2 separate regions of the Homo sapiens genome follow, and region 1 is linked to region 2. Evidence: fine-mapped expression QTL. Tissue or cell type: whole blood. Region 2 holds a variant in brackets; the other region holds the start of a gene. All regions are shown on one strand. Distances are between the middles of the regions.

What was found. PIP is the estimated chance that this variant, and not a neighbour inherited with it, causes the effect.
Region 1: it holds the start of ALAD, and the variant in region 2 is fine-mapped to the expression of ALAD in whole blood (INTERVAL, PIP 0.96).

Annotation. Positions count from the first base shown.
Region 1 is chr9:113,396,870-113,404,869 of GRCh38, forward strand. ALAD (aminolevulinate dehydratase) reads right to left here and starts at 4,415. Exons shown (of 12, transcript NM_000031.6): 1 at 4,343-4,415. RefSeq lists an enhancer at 3,571-4,151 and silencers at 4,167-4,216, 4,367-4,726.
Region 2 is chr9:113,375,738-113,383,850 of GRCh38, forward strand. HDHD3 (haloacid dehalogenase like hydrolase domain containing 3) reads right to left here and starts at 1,249. Exons shown (of 3, transcript NM_001304509.2): 1 at 992-1,249. RefSeq lists a silencer at 1,101-1,620 and an enhancer at 5,356-5,415. The variant G/T (reference allele first, on the strand shown) is at 3,903.

The DNA.
Region 1 (8,000 bases), 21 kb after region 2:
GGAGGTGGAGAGCTCTGTTTTAGACACTTCCTTTTGGAGGTGCCTGGGAGACTATCCCATAGCCAAAGGATGGGGAGGGGCGGGGAAGAGCCACAAAAATGGGGGCTGGCAGGCCTGAGTCCAACTGCTTTTTGTATGAATGGGACCTCAAGGTCCAGAGAGGGGCAAGGACTTACCCAAAGCCACACAGCGAGCAAAAGGACTAGAACCCTGGTGTGTTAACTCCCAGGTGAACTGGGAGATCCTTTGGTAGGTTGGAGTCAAGTCAGATGTCGAAGCCAGGTCTAATCCCTCTAATTTGCTTCCCAGAAAACCACCTTTGTAACAGGTCCTTGGCTTCTGGAATCCAAAGCTGCATTCCCGTGGCCTCAACTCCTCATTGCTTTCAGGAGGCTGAGGGAACAACTGCCTCCTGCTTATCAGAAACAGTGGGGCAGGGCTGCCTAGGAACTGGCTGCCCTTCTCCCCATAGTCTCTTAGGCCCCTTTAGCTGCCTTCAGCCATCTCAGGGGCCCATTTTATCCAGTCTTCCTCCTTGGTAGGGTGGGGTTATCACAAGTCACACAGGGGCCAGCCCTGCTGCCACACCCCTGGGTGGGCCAGCCCCATCACCTAACACAGGGGCAGGCCAGGCCTCCCCAGTCATGTCTCAACCTCCAAACAGACAATTATTCAGTAGATATGAGGTCCCAGCTGCCCATTTCGTACTCGATTTTGCTCTCATGTCTGCCAGGAGTTTTTTTTCCTTTTCTTTTTTTTTTTTTTTTTTTTTTGAGACAGAGTCTGGCTCTGTCACCCAAGCTGGAGTGCAGTGGTTCGATCTCGGCTCACTGCAACCTCCACCTCCTGGGTTCAAGTGATTCTCCTGCCTCAGCCTCCCAAATAGATGGGACTACAGGCATGCATGACCATGCTTGGCTAATTTTTGTATTTTTAGTAGAGACAGGGTTTCGCCATGTTGGCCAGGCTGGTCTCAAACTCCTGACTTCAAGTGATCCGCCCGCCTCTGCCTCCCAAAGTGCTGGGATTACAGGCGTGAGCCACCGCACCTGGCCGAGAGAATATTTTTGCATATTGAGAGAATTACCAAAATGTAAGCCAGTTGCCCAAGACCACATAGCTACTTAGTGACTGAGCCAGAATTTGAATTTGTTCTGGACTCCAAATGCTGGGTTTTATATACTGTATTTCATAATACTGATAAACACCTGATTCAGTAGGCGTCTCTCTGCCCATACTGTTTCTGCTTTGGGTGCTGGAGAGACAGAAGAAACAAAAGAAAAACATACTGAGTGTATTCGTTCTGTGCTGGGCACAGCACTGAAGTACTTGGTAGTAGTATCTCATTTCATTGCAAGAATTGTCCTAACTTTTAGTGATAAGGAAACAGAGGCTCTGAGCGGTTCAGTGACTTGCTTAATGCCATTCTAGAGTCTAGTCAGATGTTGAAGAGAGGTCTAATCTCTCTGACTCACTTCCCACAAACAATCTCTGTTGTTTTCTGGCTTCTGAATCCAAAGCTGCATTCCACTGGCCTCAACTCCCCATCGCTTTTAGGAGGCTGAGGGAACAACTGGCTCCTGCTTAGCAGAAACCCTGGGGCAGGACTGCCTAGGAGCCTGAGACCGGGGCAGGGTTAGAGTAAAGGGAACAGTCTCACTACAGCAGTCCACTTTGATCTGTTTTTGAATTTTAAGATTCAGAGACAGATTTGATTTGAGAAACGGCTGTCAGTGCTGAAAATATTAAAAGCTTGAAAATTGCCAATCCTGTTTAATCCCTTACACTTTAATGTGGAAAATGGGGTATAAAGAGGCAACGGGACTTTTGGAGATCACAGTGAGTGACATACAGAGCTATAAACTGACCCTGCAGCTCCTGGCTTCTATTTCAGTGCCCTGATACCTACACCATAGAGTCATTCCATTGTAAGAGGTACTTAATAAGTGGAGTTTCCCACTCCATTCTGTGAGTGGGAAAACACCCCCTGAATCACATATTGGCAGAGCCAAATGCAGGGTGGGTTTTGCTTTGCAAAAAGGCCCTTAGAGTTTGGGAGAATTTCACAGACTGGGAGGGCACTTCTCCCAAATCAAGCGAGCTTGCAAACCACAATTTAAATGCCTGTGACATTACCACACTGAAGACAGGAGCGAGCCGCCAGGAGGTCCAGCACCTCTGCCCAACCACATCAGACAGGTTAGCTTTGCTGGGACGCAGAGTATAGGGCGGTGCAGAAAGATCCATGTTTCAGGGTCAGACAGTCCCAGGTTTGGTCTATGCTCTGCTGTGTAATTTTGGGCAAAGTAATTGACCTTTCAGTGTTCATTTCATAATCTACAAAATAGGCATGATATCTCTAACTTGCAAGGCTGTGGAGATTATTGATAGGGATAAGGTAGGTGTCTGGCACCAAGTAGCTGCACAGTAAACATGTAGCTACTTTTATTACTATTAGGAGTGGGGCTGGGTTGGAACGAGATGTCCTGGCACAGCTCTGTGCCTTCTGCACCTCACCAGATGGGAATATGAGCTCAAACCCTTGTGGGCCACAGGGTTTTCCAAGATTTCTGAAGTGGAGTCCCTGCCTTCCAGCAGGTTATGTGGTGGAGGAAAAACAAAATAATCACCACCGGGCTGCCAGAGTAGAGGGGTGGACCAGGTGCTGTCAGAGGGACTGTGTCTCTGAGTCAAGGGTGGTTTCATGGAAGAGGGGACAGTGAAGGATAAGAAGTGTTTCAGATTTAATATGAAAGTATCTCCTCCCATGGAAGGCAACATCCCCAAACTGGGAGTAACTGAAGTTGGGCCCTGAGCACTGCTACCAGGAGGGGCTATGAGCTTCATGTGCCACCCCCCACCCCTGCAAGTTGTACTATGCTGAGGATTCCAGAGGCTGTGGGTCTTCGCACAGAGGCTTAGGACCTGCTGCCAGCCCTGGCAGGCTCTGCCACTGGCCAGGGAGGAGGCAGTCAGGAGAGCCAGCTAGATAGAAGGTGGCCAGAACTGAGAAATCCAAAGCCCCACAAAGGCCCAGGAGAGCAGCTGTCATGCAGTTCTGAAAAGAGATGAAGTGTTTATTCAGCCAACCCACATTTCTTGAATATCTACTATGGGCCTGCTGAAGTGCTAGACACAGGGATTAAAGAGAAGAATGAGACCCCAGCCTTGCCCTGGGGCTTTGAAGAGCCTGATCGCCTCTGGGGTTAGCCATTTAGACGTAGGAGAAGCTGCCATTCCCAGAATCCTAGAATATCTTGGCTAAGAGTCTTCTTAAAGTTTGCTGATTGTATCACTGAAACAAGGGTGAAACTGGGCTCAGAGAGGGGTAGACACAGGCCCAGGATCACGCAGTGGGTCAGCGGCAGATCTGGGGGAAGGTCTCCAGCAGCCCAGTCCTCAGTGCCCACCATGACACCTCCATACTTTAAGGATAGATATCAAATCTGTTTCCCAGCAGGTTGGGCTTGTGGAGAGCTTTGGGTGAGCCAGACTCTGGGCCTGGCTGCTGTTGGTAGCAGGATGGTTAAGTATGTGGGCTCTGGAGTCTGATAGATGTGGGTACAAATCCTAGTTCTGTAGCTTTCTAGTTGTGTGACCTCAGTTTCTTCGTTTAGTAAATGGGGACTAGAACCGACCTCAATGGGTTGTTGTAAGAAATGAATGGGTCAGGCCGGGCGTGGTGGCTCACGCCTGTAATCCCAGCACTTTGGGAGGCCGAGGTGGGCGAATCACCTGAGCTCGGGAGTTCGAGACTAGCCTGACCAACAGGGAGAAACCCCATCTCTACTAAAAATACAAAAATTAGCAGGCGTGGTGGCACACGCCTGTAATCCCAGCTAGTTGGCAGGCTGAGGCAGGAGAATCGCTTGAACCCGGGAGGCGGAGGTTGCAGTGAGCTGAGATCGCGCCATTGCACTCCAGCCTGGGCAACAAGAGCGAAACTCCGTCTCAAAAATAAATAAATAAATAAAATAAATGAATGGTCAATGCACGCAACGCTTAGTACAAAACGGCTGTTATTGTTTTCACCTCCCTACCCCCCCACCAACCACCACCCGCACCTCGGGTTCTGCATCGATGGAGTCTGCCCAGGCGGTATCCGAGAGGGTGAACCCCAGAGAAGAGGTGCGGAGCCCCGAACCCGGGCCCCCAACCTCGGCTGCAGCGGGATAATCCAGCCCAAACAAACGCTCCACGGGACTCCGTGCACGGCTGCACCGCCAGGGCTTCAGGCGCACAGCACAATCTGGGGACGCAGGACTCTTGGTGCCACAGTCCCCGCCTCGCCCTGGAGCCGCCCTCCAGGCCCGCTATCTCCCCGCATCCAGCCCCCGCTCACCTGCCTCCCTAAGGGCTCCCGGCCGCTGCTCCTGTCACCGCTGTCTCCCGCTCCGGTCTCCCACAGACCGCGTAAGAGCGGGGGGGGCTCACCCGGAAGCAGCTTCCCCACGGTCCGCCCCCTCCACAGTCCAGGCCACGCCCCCTGAAGGCGGTCTTCTGGGGGGCTCCTCCGCTCCAGCCGCGGCCCCGCCCACACGCAACGAGGCCTGGCCAATTGGGTGTGTCGAGGGCCTGGAGGGCCCGCCCGTCCCCGCTCCGGGCCCTGCGCTTGTGCAGCGAACTGCAGGAGGGAGGCCACGAGGGGGCGCAGGAACCGCTTGGGAGGGTCCCTGGGTGTGAGCCGGCCTCGGAGGCGGTTACAGCCCAGGTTTCACTTCACAGCATTCCTTTGCCCAGCCTAGGGCAAACTTGGCTCTGGTTAATGGCTTGGTGAAAGAATAATTGGATGTCAAAGCCGTTAAAACAGCACCATTATGCCTAACACAGTATTAGCTAAGTCCATTTTTGCGGACTAAGCTAAAGTTGTTGAGTTCAGCGCCAGGCTTCCAAGTTTTCAGAGAAAATTTGTACCAGCTTCATTTATTTCTCAGGGTACGGCAATGCTATGAGTTGAGAGATGTGATGTGAAAGACATGGGCGTTTAGGAAAACTCCAAGTCTTGATAGGGGCATCAGACCTATGATAGGTACAATGATAGATCCGATCAAAGGTCTTTATGGAGATTGGAGATGTGCAGAGGCAAGAGGGATCTGGTGAGGCTTATGGGGCCTGGGTAAACCAGTAGGATTGGATGAGTAAAATGGCGATCGGGCATCATCGCCCTAGCGAAGCAATGCCTTTCAGGTGGTTCTTCAGGGATTATTGAAAAGTTGACTTTCAAATGTAGAGGACACTAGTGGGTTACATTACACTTATTCTCAGATTTTATTTCTCAGCCCGGTTCGGTGGCTCACGCCTGTAATCCCAGCACTTTGGGAGGCCAAGGCGGGCGGATCTCTTGAGGTCAGGAGTTCAAGACCAGCCTGACCAACATGGTGAAACCCTGTCTCTACTAAAAATACAAAAAATTAGCCGGGCGTGGTGGCGGGCTCCTGTAATCCCAGCTACTCGGGAGGCTGAGGCAGGAGAATCGCTTGAACCCGGGAGGCGGAGGTTGTAATGGGCTGAGATCATGCCACTGCATTCCAGCCTGGGTGACAGAGGGAGACTCTGTCTCAAAAAAAAATTTTTTTTTAAATTTCTCAAAATCTGTACCCCAAACCTGTTGTATACTTTATATTTTAAATTTAAGGGGCCTAGCGGCGTAAGGCTAGGGAAATATGACACTGCTTAGTTTCCAGCTACTGGAGTTCTGATCTGTATTCAACAAGGAAGGGGATAGAAAGCAAATAATGTTTGCTGTGCATTAAAGAGTCAGGGACAGTACCATGCATTTTACATTCATTTATCTAATCTTGACAGCAACGATGTTACTATTCTCACTTTACGGATTGGGAAAACAATTGCCAGCTAGATTAAATAATTTGCCCCATGTTACACTGGGCTCTCTCTGCAATGCCTGCTAATAACCACACTCCATAGGGGCAATTATTATTTGTTTTTTCCTAGATTCCCTGCCCGACATTTCTTTCCTGACACTCATTCCTTCCCTGAGGTTATTGGTAACTAAAAATAATTAGAACCATCTAAGAACCCAAATAGAACGGGAAATTTTAAAATGTTGCTGTTTGGTGTAGCTTATTTCCCCCATGTCTTTTCTTCTTCTTGACTGAAAGACCTGTTCCCACTCTCCCCCCAGCCTCCACCTTTTGAAACATTTTACCTTAATCTTTCAGTATTGTGAATGCAATAATATGAATAAATCTTAAACATATTGTTGAGTAAAAGAAGTGAGACACAAAATAGTATATAATATGATTTCATTTATATTAACTACACAATCAAGCAAAATTAAGCTGTGTTGTTAGGACTCAGAATAGTGATTTCCACTGGGGAGATGGGGAGGATTGAAAGGGAGATTAGGCTGGGTGTGGTGGCTCACACCTGTAATCCTAGCACTTTGGGAGGCCAAGGCTGGTGGATCGCTTGAGCCCAGGAGTTCAAGACCAACCTTGGCAACATGGCGAAACAGTCTCTACAAAAATTACAAAAAGTAGCTGGGCATGGTGGTGGACACCTGTAGTCCCAGCTACTTGGGAGGCTGACATGGGAGGATTGCTTGAGCCTGGGAGGTCAAGGCTGCGGTAAGCTGTGATCGTACCACTGCACTCCAGCCTGGATGACAGAGCAAGACCCTGTCTCCAGAAAAAAAAAAAAAAAAAAAAAAAAAAAAGGCGGCAGGGGGAGACTAAAGAGGTTTCTTTGGATGCAGTTAATGTTTATTGGTCTGGGTGTGAGTTACATGGCTGTGTTTAATTCGTGAAAATTCATTAAGCTCCACACTTATTTGTGTCTTTTAGTATGTATATTTCGTTTCAATAAAAAGTTAAAACTAAACTATTCTGAGTGTCTTCTAGGTAGGTATATGGCATTGTGCTAAATGCTGTGAAAAGCATAAAAAAGGAACAAGAAAGAAAGCAGACTGCTGATTGCCAGGGCCTGAGGAAAATGTTTTGAAACTAGATAGAGGTAGTGGTTGCACAACATTGTGACTGTTCTAAATGCCACTGAACTGCTCATTTAAAAATGGTTAATTCTATGTTCTTTGAATTTCATCTCAGTCTTAAAAAGTGAGTTCACTAGATGCAATGTGGTATTCTGGGTTGGCCCCTGTAATCGAAAAAGGACATAAGTAGAGAAACTGTTGAAATATAAAAAGCTTATTAAAAAAAAACGGGGCAAGGCCAAAGGTCATTGGAACAGAATCCCAGTTTTCATAAATTCTTGGTAAGATCTTGAGCAAGTCACTTCTCTCTGAAGAACCTCAATTTCCTATCAGTAAAAATAGGAGGTTAGGCTGCAAAAGTAGCTTTGAATGGGTTGGGACGAGAACCCTCCCACCTCCCGAATCCAAATCAGAATCTCTGGGCATGAAGGGCCATGGTAAAAAAGTGAAACATTACCTTAGCCTAGTAAGGAACTTCAAAAGTCCAGATACCACTGCAGTAATGATAGAAGTGTGGTGGGGGGAATACTGGTGGATGATGTCAAAAATTTTTACCAGTTGTTAAATTCTGTAGTTTTTTTTTTTTTGAGACAGAGTCTTGCTCTGTCACACAGGCTGGGGTGCAGTGGCGCAGTCTCAGCTCACTGCAACCTCTGCCTCCTGGGTTCAAGCGATTCTCCTGCCTCAGCCTCCCAAGTAGCTGGGACTACAGGCTACCATGCCCGGCTAATTTTTGTATTTTTAGTACAGAAGGGGTTCCCCATATTGGCCAGGCTGGTCTCGAACTCCTGACCTCGTGATGAGCCTGCCTTGGCCTCCCAAAGTGCTGGGATTACAGGTGTGAGCCACCGCGCCCGGCCAAATTCTGTAGTTTCAAAGTAATAGTCCCTATTTTCAGGAAACATGTTTTTCTTAGGTAGTCCAAGTTTGGTGATGAATGGGGCAGAATTAACTAAAGCCATATGGAAGAGTTCTTTTGGGGATTCACCGTTGACTAGAGCACATAGCCTTGTTAGAGAGTGGCAGGTTAAAATAGGTAGCAGGGTGAGCC
Region 2 (8,113 bases):
GGCTGGTGCAGCTTCTTTCCCCAGACAGAGCTGATCCCAGACAAGGCCGTCCCCTTGAAACCTGAGGGGCCAGAGTTCAAAGTACGGCTAAGTTGATACTTAGGGAAGGGCGTCACTGGTAAATCTGGGGGAGCCTTGGAGGAAGTTTGTCCAGGAAATGAATTAAGGAGACTCATCCAAAGATCCTCTCATTTTGCAGGTGGGTAGACAGAGACCCAGTGAGGGGCAGTAATTTACCCCCAAATCACACAGGGAGTCACATTGGCACAGCTAAGACTAGAGCAGAGGGCTCTGGCTCCTGACCCACGGCTTTTTTTTTTTTTTTTTTTTTTTTTTGAGGCGGAGTTTCGTTCTTGTTGCCCAGGCTGAAGTGCAATGGCGCGATCTCGGCTCACTGCAACCTCCGCCTCCCAGGTTCAAGCGATTCTCCTGCCTCAGCCTCCCAAGTAGCTGGGATTACAGGCATGCGCCACCATCCCCGGCTCCTTTTTTTTTTGTATTTTTAGTAGAGACGGGGTTTCTCCATGTTGGCCAGGCTGGTCTCGAACTCCCGACCTCAGCCTCCCAAAGTGTTAGGATTACAGGCGTGAGCCACTATACCCGGCCGGCTTTTTTTCTTTTTTTTTTTTTTTGAGACAGAGTCTCACTCTGTCACCCAGGTGTACAGTGGTGCGATCTCGGCTCACTGCAACTTCCGCCTCCCGGATTCAAGCGATTCTCCTTCCTTAGCCTCCAGAGTAGCTGGGACTACAGGCGCGCGCCACCACACCTGGCTAATTTTTGTATTTTTAGTGGAGACGGGGTTTCAACTATGTTAGCCAGGCTGGTCTCGAACTCCCGAACTCGTGATCCTCCCCCGCCCCACCCCGCCCCCCGGCCTCCCAAAGTGCTGGGATTACGGTAAAGGCGTGAGCCACCGCGCCCGGCAGGGCTTTTTCGATTTCTAAAACCGCGGGTTTGGGGCTCTGCGCTGCAGGCACGAACTGCTCACCTTTTCTCCCCACCTCCAGGGCTCGGGAAAGGCGAAGTCCAGGAGCCCGGACCTGACGCAGAATGTCTATAGCTGCCGTCGGCAGCGTGAGCTGGGGCGGCGGTCCTAGGGGCCTTGGCCGCGGCCGACCCCTTGGGTCCCCTTCTCAGCTGTAGGGCGTCCACGGCTCCGGGCCGGTTCCTGGGCCCAGGACCCACCTGACTCACAAGGAAGCAGATTGAAAACGCAGCCGCAAGGCCCGCGAGCTCGGGCGGAGGTGCGCAAGCGCCGGGCGGTGGGGCGGGGATCGCGCGGGCCGCCCCTCCCTACCATCCCGACCCGCCTCTGTCCCCGCCCCGTCCCCGCCCTTATCCCCCTCACCTTCGCCCTCTCCCGCCCCATCTCCCGTCGCCCTCGCCGTCCCCTCTCCCTCCTTCGTCTCACTGTGCACCTCTCTGCGCCCCTGTCACCCGCCTTCACTGCGCGCCTCCGTTACCCTGCACCATCTACGCCCCTTATTCCCTCCCCGCACCCTCTGAGGTTCCCCAGCCCGCACCCTTCCGCTCCGCAGCCCCCGTTACCAGCACCTTCTCCGCCCTGTCTGCGCACCCCCTGCCCGCCACACCGCCGCTCCTCACCGCTGTCTCCGCTCCCCATCCCCAACCCCGGCTCCTGGCCTCCTTTGGATCGGGAAACCCCCGAGAAGTACCCAGGTTGAGTGGGAGGAGGGGAGTTGGGACCCAGCCTGGCTTGCTTAGTGTTGTGTGAACCTGGGCAAGGCCCAGCCCCTCTCTGGTCTCAGGGTCCCCAGTTGGTATTGGAGGGAATTGCTTTCAGTTGGAAACTTGTTAAATCCAAGATAACTTGGTGAGGGTAGAGTCCGCTGCAGTAACCTGCTTTTTTATTCTTTCTCTTTTTTTTTTTTTGAGACGGAGTCTCCCTCTGTCGCTCAGGCTGGAGTGCAGTGGCGCGATAGCCCACTGCAACCCCCGCCTCCCAGTTTCTTGCGATTCTCCTGCCTCAGACTCCCCAGTAGCTGGGATTACAGGTGTGTGCCACCACACCCAACTAATTTTTGTATTTTTAGTAGAGACAGGGTTTCGCCGTGTTGGCCTGGCTAGTCTTGAACTCCTGACCTCAGGTGATCCGCCCACCTCAGCCTCCCAAAGTGCTGGGATTACAGGCATGAGCCACCGCACCTGGCCTCTTTTTGTTTTTAAGAACCCTGTGGTACCATCCTGGCTAACACGGTGAAACCCTGTCTCTGCTAAAAATACAAAAAATTAGCCGGGCATGGTGGCAGGTGCCTGTAGTCCCAGCTACTCGGGAGGCTGAGGCAGGAGAATGGCATGAACCCGGGAGGCGGAGCTTACAGTGAGCCAAGATTCTGCCACTGCACAATATTTGCCTGGGCAAAGAGCGAGACTGTGTCCCCAAAAAAAAAAAAAAAAAAAAAGATCCCTGTGGTAAGAGCCTGGAATCCTAACCACTAGACCACCAGGGAGCTTTTTTATTCTTTTGAAGAATAAAAAAAGAGTTTTATCTTTGTTTGCAAAAGTAATGTATGTTGGCTGGGCGCGGTGGCTCACGCCTGTAATGCCAGCACTTTGGGAGGCTGAGGTGGGTGGATCACCTGAGGTCAGGAGTTCAAGACTAGCCTGGCCAACACGGTGAAACCCCGTCTCTACTAAAAATACAAAATTAGGCGAGGTGGTTCATGCCTGTATTCCCAGCTACTTGGGAGGCTGAGGAAGGAGAATCGCTTGAACCGGGGAGGTGGAGGTTGCAGTGAGCCAAGATCAGGCTACTGTATTCCAGCCTGGGTAACAAGAGCAAAACTCCATCTCAAAAAAATAAAAAAATAAAAAAATAATAAATAAATAAGGTATGCATGTAATGCATGTTAGTCTCAAAAAACTAAAAAATACAAACATATGAGAGTTGGCCATGCAGAGGGGAAGGATCTGAGTGATGGTTAAGGGACCCCCTGATGCAAAGGCCTCCAGGCAAGAAAGTTTTTTTTCCGAACCAAAGAGACACTGAGGAACTATAGGAATGTTGCTAGCCAGGGGGTTTGGGCCAAAGAGGCTGGGGAGGTACCGGAGGGGAAGCTTTGAGATACTTCTGTGCCTGTGCTCTGTTCCTCTTTAGTCTCATCACCTTGCACTATGACCTTAGGCAAGACAGGTCATAAGACAGCCCCCACCACCCAGGCCCCTTTGAGAGGGTCTTGCCGCATACCCTGGAGGAAGGAACACTGCACAGAGAGGCCAAGAAGAATCTACACAGATGGGTCTTGGTGGGTTTCTCTATTCAGTCTATTAGCGTTTTGTGCAATCCTGTTTCTACATGTGAAGGGGTGGCCTGCCCCTCCACACCTGTGGGTATTTCTCATCAGGTGGGACGAGAGACTGAGAAAAGAAATAAGACACCGAGACAAAGTATGGAGAAAGAACAGTGGGCCCAGGAGACCGGCGCTCAGCATACGGAGGACCTGCTCTGGCACTGGTCTCTGAGTTCCCTCAGTATTTATTGATTACTATTTTCACTATCTCAGCAAGAAGAATGCGATAGGAGAGCGGGCTGATAGTGAGGAGAAGGTCAGCAAGAAAACATGTGAGCAAAGGAATCTGAGTCACAAATAAGTTCAAGGGAAGGTACTATGCCTGGATGTGCACACAGGCCAGATTTATGCTTCTCTCCACCCAAACATCTCAGTGGAGAAAAGAATAACAAAGCAGCATTGCTGCCAACATGTCTCGCCTCCCGCCACGGCGCGGTTTTTCTCCTGTCTCAGAATTGAACAAATGTATAATCGGGTTTTATACCGAGACGTTCAGTTTCAGGGGCAGGCAGGAGACAGAGGCCTTCCTCTTATCTCAACTTCAAGAGGCCTTCCTCTTTTACTAATCCTCCTCAGCACAGACCCCTC[G/T]CGGGTGTCGGGCTGGGGGACGGTCAGGTCTTTCCCATCCCACGAGGCCATATCTCAGGCTGTCACATGGGGAGAAACCTTGGACAATACCAGGCTTTCCAGGGCAGAGGTCCCTGCGGCTTTCCGCAGTGTATTGTGCCCCTGGTTTATCGAGAATGGAGAATGGCGATGACTTTTACCAAGCATACTGCCTGTAAACATTTTGTTAACAAGGCACATCCTGCACAGCCCTAGATCCCTTAAACCTTGATTCCATACAACACATGTTTCTGTGAGCTCAAGGTTGGGGCAAAGTTACAGATTAACAGCATCTCAGGGCAAAGCAATTGTTCAGGGTACAGGTCAAAATGGAGTTTCTTATGTCTCCCTTTTCTACATGGACACAATAACAGTCTGATCTCTCTTTTCCCTACATACACGGCCATGTACACTTCGTTGAACCTAAGCATAAAAATGGACAGTTTCCTCTGTATCTGTGGCTCTTCATTCTGAAGGCTCCCATGTCACAAAAAAACTATGATCAAATAAATGTATATGCTTTTTCTCCTATTAAAAAAAATACAGACATATTCAGGGTTAGGCATAGTGGCTCATGCCTGAAATCCTAGCACTTTGGAAGGCTAAGGTGGAAGGATCCCTTGAGCTCAGGGGTATGAGACCAGCCTAGGAAACAAAGTGAGACCCCATCTTGTTAAAAAATAATAACAGGCTGGGTGTGGTGGCTCACGTCTGTAATTGCAGCACTTTAGGAGGCCGAGACCAGTGGATTACTTGAGGTCAGGAGTTTGAGACCAGCCTGACCAACATGGTGAAACCCCATCTCTACTAAAAATACAAAAATTAGTGGGGCATGGTGGCAGGTGCCTGTAATCCCAGCTACTCGGGAGGCTGAGGCACAAGAATTGTTTGAACCTGGGAGGCAGAGGTTGTAGTGAGCTGACATCACAGCATTGCACTCCAGCCTGGGTGACAGAGCAAGACTCTGTCTCAAAAAATAATAATAATAATGCAAAATACAAACGTGTACAAAATAAAAAGCCAGCCCCCCACCAACACCCAACCTCATTCATTGACCACCTAACATCTGTGGGCTCTGTGTCCCCTGTCCTTCTCTGAGGATTCAGTGGGAAACAAGGTGGTTCCTGCCTGCATGGGGCATGGGAGGGGCAGACAACCATTGAGTAGATAAATAAACAAAGTGATTTCAGAGAGAGAAGTGGAAGCGGTAAAAACAATCATTTTATGAACAGTGACAGGGTATCTCTTTGGATGAGGTGGTCAAGGAAGGAACAAAGATCTGAATGGTGAGAAGGAGGTTGTCAGGTTAAGATCAAGGAAAGTACTCCAGGTGAGGAACCGGAAAGAAGGGTGTGGGGCCTCAGCCTGCTTACTGAACAAGGGCAGTAGCCTTGGGGCAGGGAGAGAAGGGCTTCCCCACCCCATCTCACTCCCCAGGGATTGCTGAGGTGACAGTTTTGGTTATGCTATGACACAGTTTTCTAGCAGCACACAAACATGTATCTAATTTTCTTTCTTTCCTCTCTTTCTTTCTTTCTCTTCCTCCTTCCCTCCTTTCTTTCTTTTTTTTTCATTCTTTCTCTCTGTCTCCCTCCCTCTTTTCTCTCTCTCCTTTCTTTCTCTCCCTCCCTCCCTCTTCTCTCTCTCTCTTTCTCTCTCTCTCTCCTTCCTTCCTTTCTCCCTCCCTCCTCCCTTCCCTTCCCTTTCTTTCTTTCCTTTCTTCTTCCCTCCCTCCCTTCCTCCCTTCCTTCCTCCCTCCCTCCCTCCCTCTCTCTCTCCCTCCCTCTCTCTCTGTCTCTTTCTCTCTTTCTTCCATTTTTGAGACGGAGTTTCACTCTTGTTGCCCAGGCTGGAGTGCAATGGTGCCATCTCAGCTCACTGCAACCTCCACCTCCTGGGTTCCAGCGATTCTTCTGCCTCAGCCTCCCGAGTAGCTGGGATTACAGGTGCCTGCCACCACGCCCAGATAATTTGTGTATTTTAGTAGAGACAGGATTTCATCATGTTGGCCAGGCTGGTCTTGAACTCCTGACCTCAGGTGATCCACCTGCCTCAGCCTCCCGAAGTGCTGGGATTACAGGCATGAGCCACCGAGCCTGGCCCTTTTTTTTTTTTTTTTTTTTTGTGAGACAGAGTCTTACTCTGTCACCCAGGCTGGAGTGCAGTGATGCGATCTGGGGTCACTGCAACCTCTGCCTTCCAGGTTCAAGCAATTCTCCTGCCTCAGCCTCCTGAGTAGCTGGGATTACAGGTGTGCGCCACTGTGCCCGGGTAATTTTTTGTATTTTTAGTAGAGACGAGGTTTCGCCGTGTAGCCAGACTGGTCTAGAACTCCTGACCTCAACTGATCCACCCACCTTGGCCTCCCAAAGTGCCGGGATTATAGGCATGAGCCACTGTGCCTGGCCTAATTTTCTTCCTTTCAACTCTTAAAAACAAAAAAACAAAACTTTCTCCTATGTTCCAAGTTGGTCTGTTCACTGGGTTCAGGCCTGGGAAGAAACACAAAGTGCAGAGTCACAGACTTTGGACCTGCAAGAGAGAGCCCGACTCACTTGCAAAACTGGTTTTGTGTTATAAGCATGAAGCAGAAGTGGGGGTGGGAAGGGCAACTGGGAGACCAGAGGTTCAACTGCATTTCACAGAATCCAAGAATGTCTGATACTGTCTACTTTTCAGGGTCACCGAAAACCTAACCCCTTAGGTTCTGATCCCAGCTCTGCCATCTGTCTGTCTGTGAGCTCTCCATTCAATTGTTTTTCTCTCTGAGCCTCAGTATCCCAATATGCAAAATGTGAATTTTCCCAAAGTGAACATACCCATGCAACCAGCACCCAGACCAAGAAAAAGAACAATTTCCAGAACCCTCCACAGCCTGTCCACTTCCAGTTACTTACTACCCAAAAGGGTAACTATCTTGACTTCAAACTGCATAGTTAAACTTTATTTGTTTTTGAACTGTATATAAACAGAATAATATAGCATGTATTTTTTATGCCTTGCTTCTTTTGCTCAAAATTGTGTTTGATACATCTGTGTTGCTATGTGTAGTTGTAGTTAATCCATTCTCACACCTTTAATATTCTATTATATAAATAGACCACATTTTACTGTTGATGAACATTTGGGTTATCTCCAATTTTGTTTATTACACTTCTTTTTTCTTTTTTTTGGAGACAGAGTCTCGCTCTGTTGCCTAGGTTGGAGTGCAGTGGCGCCATCTTGGCTCACTGCAACCTCCCACCTCCCAGGTTCAAGCAATTCTCCTGCCTCAGCCTCTCAAGTAGCTGGGATCACAGGTGCCTGCCACCACGCCCGGATAATTTGTGTATTTTAGTAGAGATGGGATTTCATCATGTTGGCCAGGCTGGTCTTGAACTCCTAAGCTCAGGTGATCCACCCACCTCAGCCTCCCAAAGTGCTGAGATTACAGGCATGAGCCACCATGCCCGGCCTTATTACATATATTATAAAATGCTGCTATGAATGCTGTTGAACATGTGTCTTATGAACATAGGTAATGTTGGGTAAATACTGTTGGGTAATACCTAGGTGTGGAATCACAGGGTCATAAGGTATGCATATGTTCAGCTTTGGTAAATAGGGCCAGACATTTCTTTTTCTTTTTTTTTTTTTTTTGCAGACAGGATCTCCCTCTGTAGCCCAGGCCGGAGTGCAGGCCAAACATGGCTCACTGCAGCATCCACCTCCTGGACTCAGGCAATCCTCCTGCCTCAGCCTCCCAAGTAGCGGGAACCACAGACATGTGTCACCACGCCCCGCTAATTTTATTTTTGTTTTTATTTTTTAGTATAGACATGGTCTCACTATGTTGCCCAGGCTGGAGCTAGACATTTTGTTTTCTTTCTTTCTTTCTTTCTTTCTTTTTTTTTTGTTCTTGTGGAGCCAGGCATTTTGAAAGGGTGTACCAGTCATATCTGAGAGTTCCAGTTGTTCTGCATTCTCAACACTTGACATTGTCCCATTGTCCTTTTAGTATTAGGCATTTTCTTTTTCGAGTCTCCCTCTGTTGCCCAGGCTGGAACGCAGTGGCACGATCTCAGCTAACTACAACCTCCGCCTTCTGGGTTCAAGCAATTCTCCTGCCTCAACCTCCCGAGTAGCTGGGATTACAAGCGCACACCACCACACCTGACTATTTTTGTGTGTGTGTGTTTTTAGTAGAGACGGGG